Regions from separate parts of the Homo sapiens genome. Here region 1 is linked to region 2. A link means that fine-mapping ties the variant in region 2 to the expression of a gene that starts in the linked region. Tissue or cell type: whole blood. Region 2 holds a variant in brackets; the other region holds the start of a gene. All regions are shown on one strand. Distances are from middle to middle.

Region 1 (6,454 bases), 26 kb before region 2:
CAGGGTTCAAAGTACAAAGGACTCTGCATGCTATGCTAAGGAGTGAAGGTGTTGATTCAGTCAGGAACATTGATCACCAGAAGGAGAAGAGGGCAGTGCAAAGACTGAAATGGAAGGAATCAAAATGAAAGCTACTGACAAACTCCTGGAATTGTTCAGATAAAGCTAGTGCTTGGAAACAGAAGAAGCAGAGATAGGAAAATTTTTCTTTAAGAAAATGAAGACTTGGTGGTTTATTGGCTGTATGGAAATAAAGGAAAGGATAGACCATAGGAATCTTTTGTTTTCTGATTCCTGGACATTCAGCTTTATTTAAGGAAGTCAAAATCCAGTTTATAATATTGCTATTGCTCATGAAATTGCAGATTAGTTTCTGAAGAGCCTATTTTCCTTCGGATTGTCCACATGTATTAATGTGGATCAAAGTTAACTTACAACCACAGGAAGCAGGACATACAGGACAAAAATAATGACAAGGACAACTTAGAATGAGTCTGAAATATTAAAAAAATCTTTGCAAACGAGGACTTTACAATTCTGCTATGATAGACCTTTGGTGACATTTCTCTCTTTCAATCTTGGTGAATTCACCTACCATACGTACATTCTGGTGATTACTTATAGAAAAATACATTTGGTCATCATTTTTCTTGCTTTGACACAGGTAAACAGAATGCAAAGTTTATTCTCATTTTTAGCTAGAGGGCACAAGTCCTAGTACATAAACTCAAACGAAAACATAAGCAAAAAGATTAAAGTAATGCGCACTGAGTCATGAACCCAGAATAGACAGCTCTGAAAGAAAATTAGAGTATGGGTGAGCAAAAACGTTATTTCCTAGAGAGGATACCACCTTAAACACAACTTTGGAACTCTAGATTATAGACAAGTGGAATTTCAGAGTTTGCTTTTTTCAAAAGACAGAAAAATAATCTGCACAAGCCTCTACAGGAGGAGGATGAGGGGGCACACTATATACAGTCCCATCCCGTGGGGCATCTAGAAAGTTCCATCTGCTCCCACTGTTCTGCATCCGTAGCCTTAAGTTCCTTCAAGACTGAGTTCATATTCTACTTCAACAGAGTTCTGAGACCCCCCCTTTCCACTCGCTGTTTCCAGTGCCATGAGGAGCGATCTCATGGGGCAGCCCCTGCCTTCGGTGTCTGGGTCTTTCTTGCATTTCAAATTTCTGTCACCTAGAGCGTCCAGCCCTGGATGCCCGGGTTCCTGCGGCCTGAGGGTTGCACATGGGGTCAGGGGGCGTCAGCTGAGACAGCACCCGGCGAAGGCCAGCGTGGCTCAATGCCCATCACAGATGCCCTTCAACCCCAAAACCCCATCATCCGCTTCAGCCCCCCTCTAAAGCGAGAATATGTGTGAGGGAGGCTAGGAGAATTCGAAGTAAAAATAACCCGAATCGGCAGCGCGTCCGCCGCGCTAGCTGCCACAAATGCTGCAGATCCGACGGAATGGAAGCAGAAAAGGCCCTGGCGTCCCCTTGGGAAAGAACGAGGTCAGGAGTCGGTCTTGCACGCAGCGTAGAGCGACGAGACTACACCTACCTGATCACAGACGTTCCACACCAGCTCAGCAACGGTCGTCCACGCCGCTTGCTGTTTCCCCACAGCCAACGTCGAAAACACCCTCGTGCCGGCGCGCAGTGCACCGCGCCTGCGCATAGTCTCCAGCGAAAGAGCAAGGGTCTGCCAGTGCGCATGCTCCGCTCTCGACCTCCTCCCCGCACACTTTGAACGCCGCGCCTGAGGCCAGCTGGCACATGCGCATGCGTGTCTCTGGTGCCTGCTCTCCCCACCAAAGCAAGAAGCGGCGGGTACTTGAAGCGGAGTGAGCCGGAAGTCGCTTTGCCTGCCCATTTCCACGCTGTACCGGCGGAAATTCAAGCACTGGAAGAGAGGTTCCGGGGCTGGGCTGGCCTGACTGAAGGCGGCGGAATGGAGACGCGGACCGAGGACGGGGGCCTCACCCGCCGCCCCACGCTGGCCTCTTCTTGGGATGTTGCAGGCGGGGCCCTGACCCACAGCCTCCTCCTCACCCGGGCCGGTCTCGGCCCCGGTGACTTCGACTGGGAGGAGCTGCTGGCACCGCCTGCTCCAGGGTGCGCCGGGCCGACGGGGACGGGGTCGCTATGCTCGGCAACTGCCGCGCTTCTAGGGGAGCTGTGAGGGGAGGCGAGAGGGTCTGAGCCCGGGATCCGGGAGAGCAGTTGGTACCAGGTCTCTAGTTGGGGAGGGGAGCTGCGAGGTCGTCCGGGGTGGGCGGAGGGGGGTGGGTCCGGCCGGGAAGGGGCCGAGGCTCCTGGGCGTGAGAGGGGGAAGGTGACCCGGACTCGGAATTTCATATAACGTCCCCATCAGGCGTGATAGCCCCTCAGGGCTGCTGTCAAAGTCAGTCCGCCCCTCTACCCTCAAACAAGACACCTCCTGTCCACCAAAACAGGCTGTGTAAAAAGTCCAGCTATAGATGATCGCTGTCGACTTAATTTCGAAAAAGATACACTTTTGTCTTTCATTGTGCCCTGCACCCAGTAGGTGCCCAGTGATTTATGTAATTATCCGAGAGTCAATTGCAGGGGATTGAGTAGAATGTTGATTGAGGAAAAAATAGAGTTTGGGAAAGCCCTGATGTGTGACACCTTCATTTCCGTATGAATTCTGTGTTGAGCGCTTCTTGGATGCTTGGGAAGGTGCTTGGACCTCAAGGGCAAGTGGAAGTGAGTTAGAAGAAAGAAGCCCCGGCCGGGCACGGTGGCTCACACCTGTAATCCCAGCACTTTGGGAGGCCGAGGCGGGCGGATCACGACGTCAGGAGATCAAGACCATCCTGGCTAACACGGCGAAACCCCGTCTCTACGAAAAATACAAAAAATTAGCCGGGCGCGGTGGCGGGTGCCTGTAGTCCCAGCTGCTTGGGAGGCTGAGGCAGGAGAATGGCGTGAACCCGGAAGGCGGAGCGTGCAGTGAGCCGAGATGGAGCCACTGCATTCCAGCCTGGGCGACAGAGCCAGACTCCGTCTCAAAAAAGAAGAGTCATGTTCAGAGAACTATACTGTGTGATGTTTTCACCAATTTTCTTCTCAGTCAGGATCTGGTGATTTTGAAGAGAAACCACAACAACAAAGATGAAAACCCCTGCTTCCTTTACCTGAGGTGTGGCCCTGATGGAGGTGAAGAAATCGCTTCTATTGGCATTTTAAGTTCAGCAAGAAATATGGAAGTGTACTTAGGAGAGGAGTACTGTGGAACCAGTAGGGGCAAGAATGTTTGTACTGTCCTGGATGACAGGTGTGTGACTTGTACACGGGAAAGTGTTCTTCTGAAGTAGTGTTTTGATTTTTCTCACTTTTTGCAATAATTATTGATTCTCTGATATTGATACCATATGTTATGGGAGAGAAGATAAAAATGTGCCAGTAGGCATAGAAGTTTACAACTTTAGAGATCTTAAAAGACAGTGTAGATCAGCCTAGTTATTTTTATAAATGTTGAAATTTAGAACTAACAATCAAGGTGAATTGGTAGGAGGTCATAGCTAGTTAGTGGAAGAGTTTTATTAGAATGAAATTTTGAGAAGTGTGTCTCTTTCCTTAAACTCACAGCAGTCTGTCTTCCGAAAGTTAATTTGGTAGTCAGTCTGGAACTTTGAATACATTTTCTTCTTGGAAGCCTATTAGAAATGGTGGAGGGATCTAAGACTGTGCTACATAAACCTATTTATTAACCTGTAACGCAACTTGTGATTTTTTTTCTTACGAAGATTTTTCTCCAATCTGTCTTTAACACAAAATATGAACTGTTTTATATCCTGCATGTTGGAAACAATTGCTGTGTTTATTGAGCTTTAAAATACAGTCTGGCTACATGGTTGTACATATGTTATATAATGTAATTTTCTCATTGAGCCTAGTAAGTGGTAGATGTAATCATAGGCAGTGTGCTTCAGTTATGGAGCCCAACTCTTCATGCCTCACCAGGAAAACTGAATCTTAGGATTTCAATATTGTTCTGGAAACATTTATTTTTAAGTGTAACTATTAAAAGTGACAATATATGTAAGTAAAAAAAATTAATTCTTTTTTATTTTTAGTGAACATGAAAAGATCATTTTGTATAAAAAAAATCTAAAATTGGAGTCCTCCACACATGCTTGTAAAATAAAGGTAAGTTGTCAGTTGTAAACTAATTTGACAACTAAGTTGTTTTTGTACTCTGTGTATGCTTGTTTTCTTTTGGATTAGTAATACAATTAGTCCAACTTGCTTGCTTGCTTTTTTTTTTCTTTTCAAGACAGTATCTTGCTCTGTTGCCCAGGCTGGAGTGCAGTGGGACAATCATGGCTCACTGCAACGTCATCTCCCAGCTCAAGCTAACTTCCTACCTCAGCCTCCCAAGTAGCTGGGACTACAGGCATACACCACCATGCCTGGCAAATTTTTTAAATTTTTAGTAGAGATGAGGCTCAGAAATACTTAGTAAACATGTACAAAGAAATTACTTTTCTAAAAAATTATCAGCCCTTTTTAACATTGAATTAAGAAATTTTTTTTTTTTTAAATTTTTCACCCGGTGACCAGTGAGTAGACTTTTTCTCTTAAAATTTAACCATGAGCCACGTGCAGTGGTACATGTTTATAATCCCAGTTACTCAGGAGGCTGAGGTGGGAGGATTGCTCAAGCCCAGGAGTTCAAGACCAACCTGGGCAACAGAGTGAAACCCCATCTCACTAAAAAAATAATAAAAATAAAATTTGACTATTTATTAACCTTGGATAATGTATTGTTAATATGGTAGTGCTGTGTATTTTGAAGTGTTGGGAAATTGAGCAAAAAACATTTTTAAAAACTATATAAACTGTGATGGCAAAAACCCATTTATAAAAGAACAAAATTAGAGAAGTTTCAAGCAAGAGAACCAATAAGTTAAAGGGATTGGACTGTTGTCTTCAGCATGAAAAATATTGTTAAGGTAACTGTTAGTTATGTCTTCAGAGTCTAGGGATAAGGTAATGGATTGGAAGTCTTAAGCCCTGAATGCTAATTCAGTTCTGTCCTGACTAGTGGATTAGTCTTGGGCAGATTTTGGACCTATCTCATGGGTAAAATTAGAGAGCTGAAGAAAATTCTTGGATTCTTTTTATCTCTAAACTTCTGTACTTATTATCATTACTTATAGAAGATTGAAACCTATTTTTACAATAAGAAAAAATAAGTGATTTTTACAGGCAGATAGCAAACTCACAGGACTGATTATCCCAAGATGTTGTTTTGGATAGTATATATTAAATAGCTTCTAAAACCATTTGAATAAAGTAATTTCTTCATTCAACAAAGATTTGAGTGCCTCTTAATGTCAGGTACTATACCAGTCATTTAGGAATTAGCAATAAGAAAATAAACTGAAATGCCTGAACTTATGTTGCTTGTATTCTAGTGGGCAAGACAGACAATAAGGAGACTCAATGAGTAAAATAAATACTATATTTAATGGTGAAAAAGGCTATGGGGTTAAAAAGAGAAAGGGGGATAATAGAGAGGTTGAGAGGTAGGAGGTTAATAAGAGTGTTTCCTTAAAATGTTGAAGACAGTCACATCTTTGGTTCAACACTTAAGAGTTCTTGGATCATGAGTCTGTATTGACCTATGTCCTTGTTTGACATGTGGACCTGTGTGTCTCTCTGAAGGTGAATGTTTTTTTAACTGTTCAATGGAGGTACATGGGAGTGCAAAGGGTTATTTCAGGGAAGCTCTAGGATTGATATGAAAGCTTGTTCTGAGGCAATAGTATATGGAAGTTCAAATAAAAAAATGGTTACTTATACAGGTTTTTGAGCACTTACTTACTGGTAGCTACTGGAAATTTTAACATATAATCCTCGCAACAACTATGTGAAATCATTGCTACTGTCTTCTCTCATTTTTATCCTGACTCAGATTTAGCATTTGCCCAGGGTCACACAGGTTGTTAAGTACCAGAGTCGTAAGTTAAACTTAGGTTTGTCTGATTCTAAAGTCCGTTCCCTTTCCATTTTGCTACTCTGTTGTCTGTACCATACATGAAATGTCTCGTTTCAGAAATATGGACAGGATAAAATGTTGGATAAACTACAGGGATAGAAGCCAGAAGAGATAGGTTTCAAGCTGGTTCTTTACTAATTGAGTGTCCTTTAACAAGTTAGAAAAATCACCCTTGAAGTCATCATTTCTATGTGTAATCCAGCAAGCTATATTACATCATTTTGATATTCTCTTATAGTTCTGAATTTGAAAGGATTGCATTTTACTTATTTCAGTAAACGTTTTACATGAGCATTTGGACAGACTTATTTTGTGTTAAGTAGCAAGTTGTGGTGTGTTAAGGTCTCAGATTGGTATATAGCAGTTCTCCTTTATCTGCAGTTTCACTTTCCACAGTTTCCATTACCCACAGTCAACTGAGG
Region 2 (7,989 bases):
GAATTTTTACCCTGCCCTAACTCTGCTTATCTTTAAGAAACAGGATGCCTGTGATGAAAAGTTCCTTTTGTAACCAGTCCAGAGGAGACTGGTTACAACCACGATAGCTGACCAAACGACTTTAAAAAGACCTCAGCCTTTTTATAATCTTATTTCTGTGCTAAATAACGCTCCTGCTAGCTCCATGACAGTTGACAATCGCCATGACAGTGACCAGAAGAAGCCATGAAAGGACAAAAAGGAAGGCAGCACTCTGGTTTTAGGAAGTTCACTGCCCATTTCTGAAAAATCCAGGAATATTCCTCCCTTTGCTTGAATGTGAAACACCTTTATTAGAAAAATTATATTTTAACCCCCTCACTCCTCATTAGTTGAAAAGTTGATTTGTGAGCCATACTCCTGCTTCTCAATTCAGTGGCGATTGAATAAAACCTGCAGTGTTTGTCACTCTTTTTTGGTTTCACGTATTGGCTTTGTGACACCCATCAGGGAAAGACCCCATCTTTTGGAGGACCAGCTTTGTTGGTAACAAAAGGAGGGCTAATTTATATGTTGTTTGTTCATTTTTATCATACTACAAAGGTGACACAGTATATGGAACAAACTGTGACCATAGTAATGTCAGGATTTGCATATCCCTTTTGATAGTCCTTGAAGGGCCATTATTTATGGGACATTCATAACATATATTAGATAGTATCTCTGTTCTCATTGAGAAGTCTGTCTCAAGTTTGAATCTGTTAGTTAATAGTCCTGCATTAGTTAATAGTCCTGCATCTTCTGGTAGTTGTGGTCTGTTCATTGATTCACAAAGTGCCTCACTATGATGTGGTAGCAATTACTGTATTCCAAGCAAGGATGATGAATGAAGTTAGGGGCAGACAGTACAAAGGCCAATTCTGAGTTCCTTCTGCATGTATCTGATGATGAAGTAATTGGGAAGCAAGATCACAATCATCTTAAAGAGTAATATTTGGCAATTTGAAATTTGATAAATATGTGATTTCTCTACATACTCTGCATTTGTTATTTGGAACAGTGCCAGCATAACAGAGGAACTGTTATTGGAATTAGCTTAGTGTTTATGTTAAAAATCAAAGACAAAATATCCCTGAAAGTATTTGTTTTTATTTATTTATTTATTTATTTATTTTGAGACAGAGTTTCACTCTGTAGCCCAGGCTGGAGTGCAGTGGTGCGATCTCATCTCACTTCAACCTCTGCCTCCTGGTTCAAGCAATTCTCCTACCTCAGCCTCCCGAGTAGCTGGGATTACAGGTGCAGACCACCATGCCTGGCTAATTTTTGTATTTTTAGTACAAAATACTGTTGGTCAATCTGGTCTTGAACTCCTGACCTCAAATGATCCACCCACCTCAGCCCCCAAAAGTGCTGGGGTTACAGGCGTGAACCACTGCGCCCGGCCCCTAAAAGTATTTCTATTTCAAGTGGCTAATTTAGTTTGGCTTCCCAGTGTGAGGTAGAAAACTTGTGAAATTAAAGTATCATAGTCTGGCTGGACATGGTGGCTCACGCTTATAATCTTAACACTTTGGGAGGCTGAGGCAGAAAGATCACTTGAGGCAGGGAGTTTGAGTCCAGCCTGGGTAAACATAGTGAGGCCCTGTCTTTACAGAAAAAAAGGTGTTAGAGTTAAGGAGCCATGCAGGGTCATTTATTAAGGGTCAGTATTTTTCATAGTTGTCAAAACATTTGATTAACAGGGAAATTAGTGTCCTTCTTTGAAACTGGAAAACAGTATTTTACTAGGATGTTTGCATATTGACATTCACAAATGTTCAACTGTTTTCAAACTTAAAGATGCATTATGCAAGTCTTTGTAGTGAATGTGTTTATAGAAGTTAATACGTTTAATTTCTTGATTTAAGACTTAAAAAGCCATTTTAGGTTCATAGCAAAATTGAGAGAAGTTACAGAGATTTCTCATATATTCCCTATCCTTACGTGTGCATAACCTCCTCTACTATCAACATCCTCACTAGAGTGGTACATTTGTTACAATTGACGAGCCTACATTGACATCTTTATCACCTGAAGTCTATAGTTCATATTAGGATTCACTCTTGGTGTTGTACAGTCTATGGATTTGGACAAATGTATAATGACATGTATCCACCATTATCGTATCATATAGACTAGTTTCACTGCCCTAAAAATCCTCTATGCTCCACTTATTCATCCCTCTGGCAGCCACTGCTCTCTTTACCATCTCCATGTTTTTCCTGTTTCCTGAATTCCATATAGTTGGAATCATGGTCTGTAGCCTTTTCAGTTTGGCCTTTTACTTAGCAATATGCATTTAAGTTTCCTCCATGTCTTCTCATGGCTTTTTTCTTTTTGTTTTGTTTTGACATAAAAATAGTTGGTTATAAACCAGAATTATAATTCTTCGTAGTCCATATAAATAATGATATAAAGCTAGGCATCACAGGACTTCTTGTATACCAGGATCATTTTCACCTAAGATAAATTATTAAACAGTTTCTATTTAATTGTGACTTATCCTTAAAAACAAAACATCTATCAAGCTCAGTACATTCAGTATCAGATATTAAGTAATGTGGAGAAAATGACTCAATGTAGCCAACATACAGTTATCACTGAGTGCATTTGCCATTCCCTCTGTCCCATGCAATGTCAGAATTCAGATTCCTGACCTTTAAAACTAAGGATTCTTCTGTGTTAAGATAGTATTTCTCCATTTAAAAAAACCCCATGTCTCATTTGCTGGCTCTGGGTCTCTTAGGCCTCTTGAACCTGGTACCATCTCCACAGGAGTCTATAGGGGTTTGGCACAACAGACCACCATCATATATGCAGTCCGTCATTGACTGGAGCATCCTTATGTGGTGCATAACTAGTTTTGAAACAATACCATGGGAAGACTTTGAAAGCTGCTTCTCCTGGTGCCAGGGAATCACTGAAGAACTACGCATGATGTTTAAGAAAGAGAGTGACATCATCGGCTCTGGGCCTTGGAAAGAAAACTGGAGTGGAAGTCTCCTCATCATCCTGATACAGGTGAAATCCCAAATGGGGGCTTAGCTTGGGAGGGTTCTTGGCTTCAGCTGAAAGAATTCACACACTGGGGCCTGTTGTGGGGTGGGGGTAGGGGGGAGGGATAGCATTAGGAGATATACCTAATGCTAAATGATGAGTTAATGGGTGCAGCACACCAACATGGCACATGTATACATATGTAAATAACCTGCATGTTGTGCACATGTACCCTAAAACTTAAAGTATAATAAAAAATTCAAGAGTGAGCCAACAGTGAAAGACAGCACATTTATGGGAGCAACAATGTACAGTGAAATGGCTGCTCCATAGACCCAGCAGAGCTATCCCATAGGCAGAGTGGCACTTGTGGACTGCTGGCTAGCTATATTAATGCCTGTGCCTAATTATATGCTAAGTAAGGGGTGAGTTATTCTTGAACTTTCTGAAGAAGTGGCAGCCGACTCTGGTGGATGAAGTCAGTCCAGGGCAGGGCGTGGTTGGCCTGAGCTTGAGCATCCCTCTCTGCTCCCAGGCTGGGAATCAGGAAGCTCTGGCTCTTGCAGCCCATGTGTAAGTCCTAGGTATTTTATTTGTAGCTATTATAAATCAGATTACTTTCTTGATTTCTTTTTCAGACTGTTTACTATTGGCATATAGAAATGCCACTGATTTTTGTATGTTGATATTGTATCCTAAAACTTAACTTGTTTTTCAGTTCTAGTAGTTTTTTGGTGATGTCTTTAGGTTTTTTCCAAATATAAGATCGTATCATCTGCAAACAAGGATAATTTCATTTCTTCCTCTCCAACTTGAATGCCCTTTATTTCTTTCTCTTGTCTGATTACTCTAGTTAGGACTTATAGTACCTATTCTAGTACCTCTTCAATAGTACTTCTATTCAATTATTGTTGAATAACAGTAGTGATAGTAGGCACCCTTGTTGTGTTCCAGATCTTAGAGGAAAGGCATTCTGTTTTTCCCCATTCAGTATGATAACTAGCTGTGGGTCTGTCATATTTGGCTTTTATTGTGTCAAAGTATTTTCCTTCTATACTCAGTTTTTTAAAGTGTTTTTATCATGAAGGAATGTTGAATTTTATCAAATGCCTTTTCAGCATCAATTGAAATGATTATATGATTTTTGTCTTTTATTTTGTTGATATGATGTATCACATTGATTGATTTAAGTGC[A/G]TGGAGCCATCCTTGTATTCGTAGGATAAATCCCACTTGGTCATGATGAATAATCTTTTTAATGTGTTGTTGAAGTCAGTTTGCTAGTATTTCGTTGAGAATTTTTGCATCAATATTCATCAGTGATACTGGCCTGTAGTTTGTTCGTTCTCTTTCTCTTTCTTTCCTTCTTTCCTTCTTTCTTTCTTTCTTTCTTTCTTTCTTTCTTTCTTTCTTTCTTTCTTTCTTTCTTTCTTTCTTTCTTTCTTTCTGTGTCTTTGTCTGGTTTTGGTATCAGGGTATTACTGGCCTCATAGAAAGAGTTTGGAAGTATTCCTTCCTCCTTTATCTTTTGAAATAGTTCAAGTAAGATTGGTATTAGTTCTTCTTTAAATGTTTGGTAAAATTCAGCAGTGAAACCATCATATCCTGGAATTTGTTTTGCTAGGAGACCTTTTAGTACAGCTTTGATCTCATTACTTTTACCAGTCTGTTCAGACATTTTCAGGTTTTGGATTTCTTTCAAGTTTAATCTTGGTAGGTTGTATGTGTCTAGGAATTTATCCATTTCTTCTAGGCTTTCCAATTTATTGGTGTATATTTGCTCATAGTAGCCCCTAATAATCCTTTGAATTTTTGCAGTGCCAGTTGTAATATTTCCTTTTTCATATCTGATTTTATTTATCTGTTCTTCTCTCTTTTTTTCGGTTAATCTGGCTAAAGTTTTGGTGATTTTGTTTATCTTTTAAAAAAACCAGCTTTTCATTTTGTTGATTTTTTTTGTTTTCCTCATTTCAAGTTCATTAATTTTTGCTCTTATCTTAATTATTTCTTTTCTTCTAATTTTGGGTTTGGTTTACTCTTGCTTGTCTAATTCTTTAACTTGCATGGTTAGGTTGTCTATTTGAAGATTTTCTACTTTTTTGATGTAGGCTTAAAGATATACGCTTTCCTCTTAGTACTGCTTTTACTATATTCCATAGGCTTTAATATGTTGTGTTTTCATTATTTGTTTGAAGAAAATTTTCACTTTCCTTCTTAATCTCTTCATTGACCCACTGGTCATTTAGAAGCATATTGTTTAATTTCCATGTGTTTGTATAGTTTCCCAAAATCCCCTTGTTATTGACTTATAGTTTTATTCCATTGTGGTCAGAGAAGTTACTTTGATATTATTTCAAGTGTTTTGAATTTTTAAAGACTTGCTTTGTAGTATAACATAAGGTCTATCCTTGAGAATTATCTATGTGTTGAGGAGAAGAATGTATATTCTGAAGCCATTGGATGAAATGTTTTGTAAATATCTATTATGTCCATTTGGTCTATAGTGCAGATTAAGTCCAATGTTCATTGATTTTTTTTTTTTTTTTTTGGTCTGGGTGATCTGTTCAGTGCTGAAACTGGGATGTTGAAGTCTCTAGCTATTATTCCGTATTGGGGTCTATCTCTCTCTTTACCTCTAATAATATTTGCTTTGTATATCTCAGTGGTCCAGTGTGAGGTGCATTTACAGTAGTTATAGCCTCTTGCTGAATGTATCCATGTATAATTATATAATGACCTTCTTTGTCTCTTTTTATAGTTTTTGTCTTGAAATATATTTTTTGCATCAATCTATTCTGCTCTTTTTTGTTTCCATTTGCATGGAATATCTTTTTCCATCCCTGTATTTTCAGTCTATGTTGTGTCTTTATAGGTGAAGTGTGTTTCATGTAGGCAACAGATCATTTGGTCTTGTTTTTGTTTTTGTTTTTGTTTTTTAATCCATCAGCCACTCTATGTTTTTTGATTGGAGAGTTTAGTCCATTTACATTCAATGTTATTATTGGTAAGTAAGGACTTACTCCTGCCATTTTATTTGTTTTTGGGTTGTTTTGTGGTCTTCTCTTCCTTCTTTTCTTACTAATGTCTTCATTTTAATGAAGGTGATTTTCTCTGGTGGCACATTTTAATTCTTTGCTTTTTATTTTTTGTGTATCTGTTGTGTGTTCTTTGATTTGAGGTTACCATGAGGCTTTCAAATAATATAATATCTCGTTATTTTAAACTGATGTCAACACTGATTGCATAAACAAAGAGAAAACTAATAAAACTCTACACTTTAACATTGTTCCCTGCTTTTAAATTTTTTGTTGTTTCTATTTTTATCTTATTGTACTGCCTGTCTTGAAAACTTGTTGTAATTATTATTTTTGATCAGTTCATATTTTAGCATTTCTACTCTAGATATGAGTAGTTTACATGTCACAGTTATGGTGTTGTAATATTCTGTGTTTTTCTATGTATTCACTATTGCCAGTGAGTTTTGTACTTTCACATGACTTTTTATTGCTCATTAATGTTCTTTTCTTTCAGACTGAAGAACTCCCTTTAGCATTTTTTATAGGACAGGTTTCATGTTTAAATTTCTCAGCTTTTTTTCTTGTCTGGGAAAGTCTTTCTCCTTCATGTTTGAAGGATATTTTTGCTTGATATACTATTCTGGAATAAAAGTTTTTTTTTCCTTCAGCATTTTAAATACACTGTCTCCTGGCCTGTAATATTTTTACGGAGAAGCTTGCTGCCAGATATACTGGAAGTCCATTGTATGTTGTTTCTTTTCTTTTGCTGCTTTTTAGGATCCTTTCTTTATCCTTGACCTTTGGGAATTTGATTATTAAATTCCTTGAGGTAGTCTTATTTGTGTTAAATATGCTTGATGTTCTGTAACCTTCTTCTACTTGAATATTGATATCTTTCTCTAGGTTTGGGAAGTTCTTTTTTATTATCCCTTTGAATACACTTTCTATCCCTGTCTGTCTACCTGTTCTTTAAGGCCAATAACTCTTGGATTTTCCCTTTTGAAGCTATTTTCAAGATTTTGTAGGCATGCTTCATTCTTTTTGCTTTTGTCTCCTCTCTCTTTGTATTTTCAAACAGCCTGTCTTTAAGCTCACTAATTCTTTATTTTGCTTGATCAATTCTGTTGTTAAGAAACTCTGATGCATTCTTCAGTATGTCAATTGAATTTTTCAACTACAGAATTTCTTCTTGATTCTTTAAAATAATTTCAATCTCTTTGCTAAATTTATCAATAGGATTCTGAATTCCTTCTCTGTGTTATATTGAATTTCATTGTATTTCCTCAAAACAGCTATTTTGGATTCTCTGTCTGAAAGTCACATATCTCTGTCTCTCCATGATTGATTCCTTGTGCCTTACTTAGTTCATTTGCTGAGGTCATGTTTTCCTGGATGGTCTTGATGCTTGTGGATGTTTGTTTGTGTCTGAGTATTCAAGAGTTAGGTATTGATTGTAGTCTTCACAGTCTGGTCTTGTTTGTGTCTGTCCTTCTTGGGAAGGCTTTCTAGATGCTTGAAGGCAAGTGCCTATTGTGATCTAAGTTTTTGGTCACTGCAACCGTATCTGCATTAGGAGATACCCCAAGCGCATTAAGGCTATGGCTCTTGCAGACTCATAGAGGTACTGCCTTGGTGGTCTTTGACAAGATCCAGAAGAATGAAATGGATTACCAGGTAGAGACTCTTAGTCTCTTTCCCTACTTCCACCCAAACAAATGGAGTCTCTCTCTCTCTCTGCTGAGCTGTCTGGAGTTGGGATGAAGTGACACAAGCACCCCCGTGGCCACCAGCAGTGGGACTGTGCTCAGTAAGAACTAAAGCCAGCATAGTATTGGATCTCACCCAAGGCCCACAGTAGCCACTGTCTGGCTACTGTCCATGTTTGCTCAAGACCCTAGGGCTCTACCAACAGGTGGTAAAGCCAGCCAGGATGGCATCCTTCTTTTCAGAGCAACAA

Evidence for each region. PIP is the estimated chance that this variant, and not a neighbour inherited with it, causes the effect.
Region 1: C10orf88 starts here. The variant in region 2 is fine-mapped to the expression of C10orf88 in whole blood (INTERVAL, PIP 0.97).

The regions. Positions count from the first base shown.
Region 1 is chr10:122,949,677-122,956,130 of GRCh38, reverse strand. It overlaps C10orf88 (chromosome 10 open reading frame 88), which reads left to right and starts at 1,904. Exons shown (of 6, transcript NM_024942.4): 1 at 1,904-2,116; 2 at 3,099-3,302; 3 at 4,105-4,177. The coding sequence starts at 1,953. LOC124902519 (a long non-coding RNA gene) reads right to left here and starts at 1,689. Exons shown (of 2, transcript XR_007062325.1): 1 at 1,563-1,689. RefSeq lists a silencer at 2,109-2,188.
Region 2 is chr10:122,923,364-122,931,352 of GRCh38, reverse strand. C10orf88 (chromosome 10 open reading frame 88) reads left to right here. Exons shown (of 6, transcript NM_024942.4): 6 at 1-452. Among named protein-coding and RNA genes, the nearest start is that of FAM24A, 17 kb to the right of the region's middle. The variant A/G (reference allele first, on the strand shown) is at 4,213.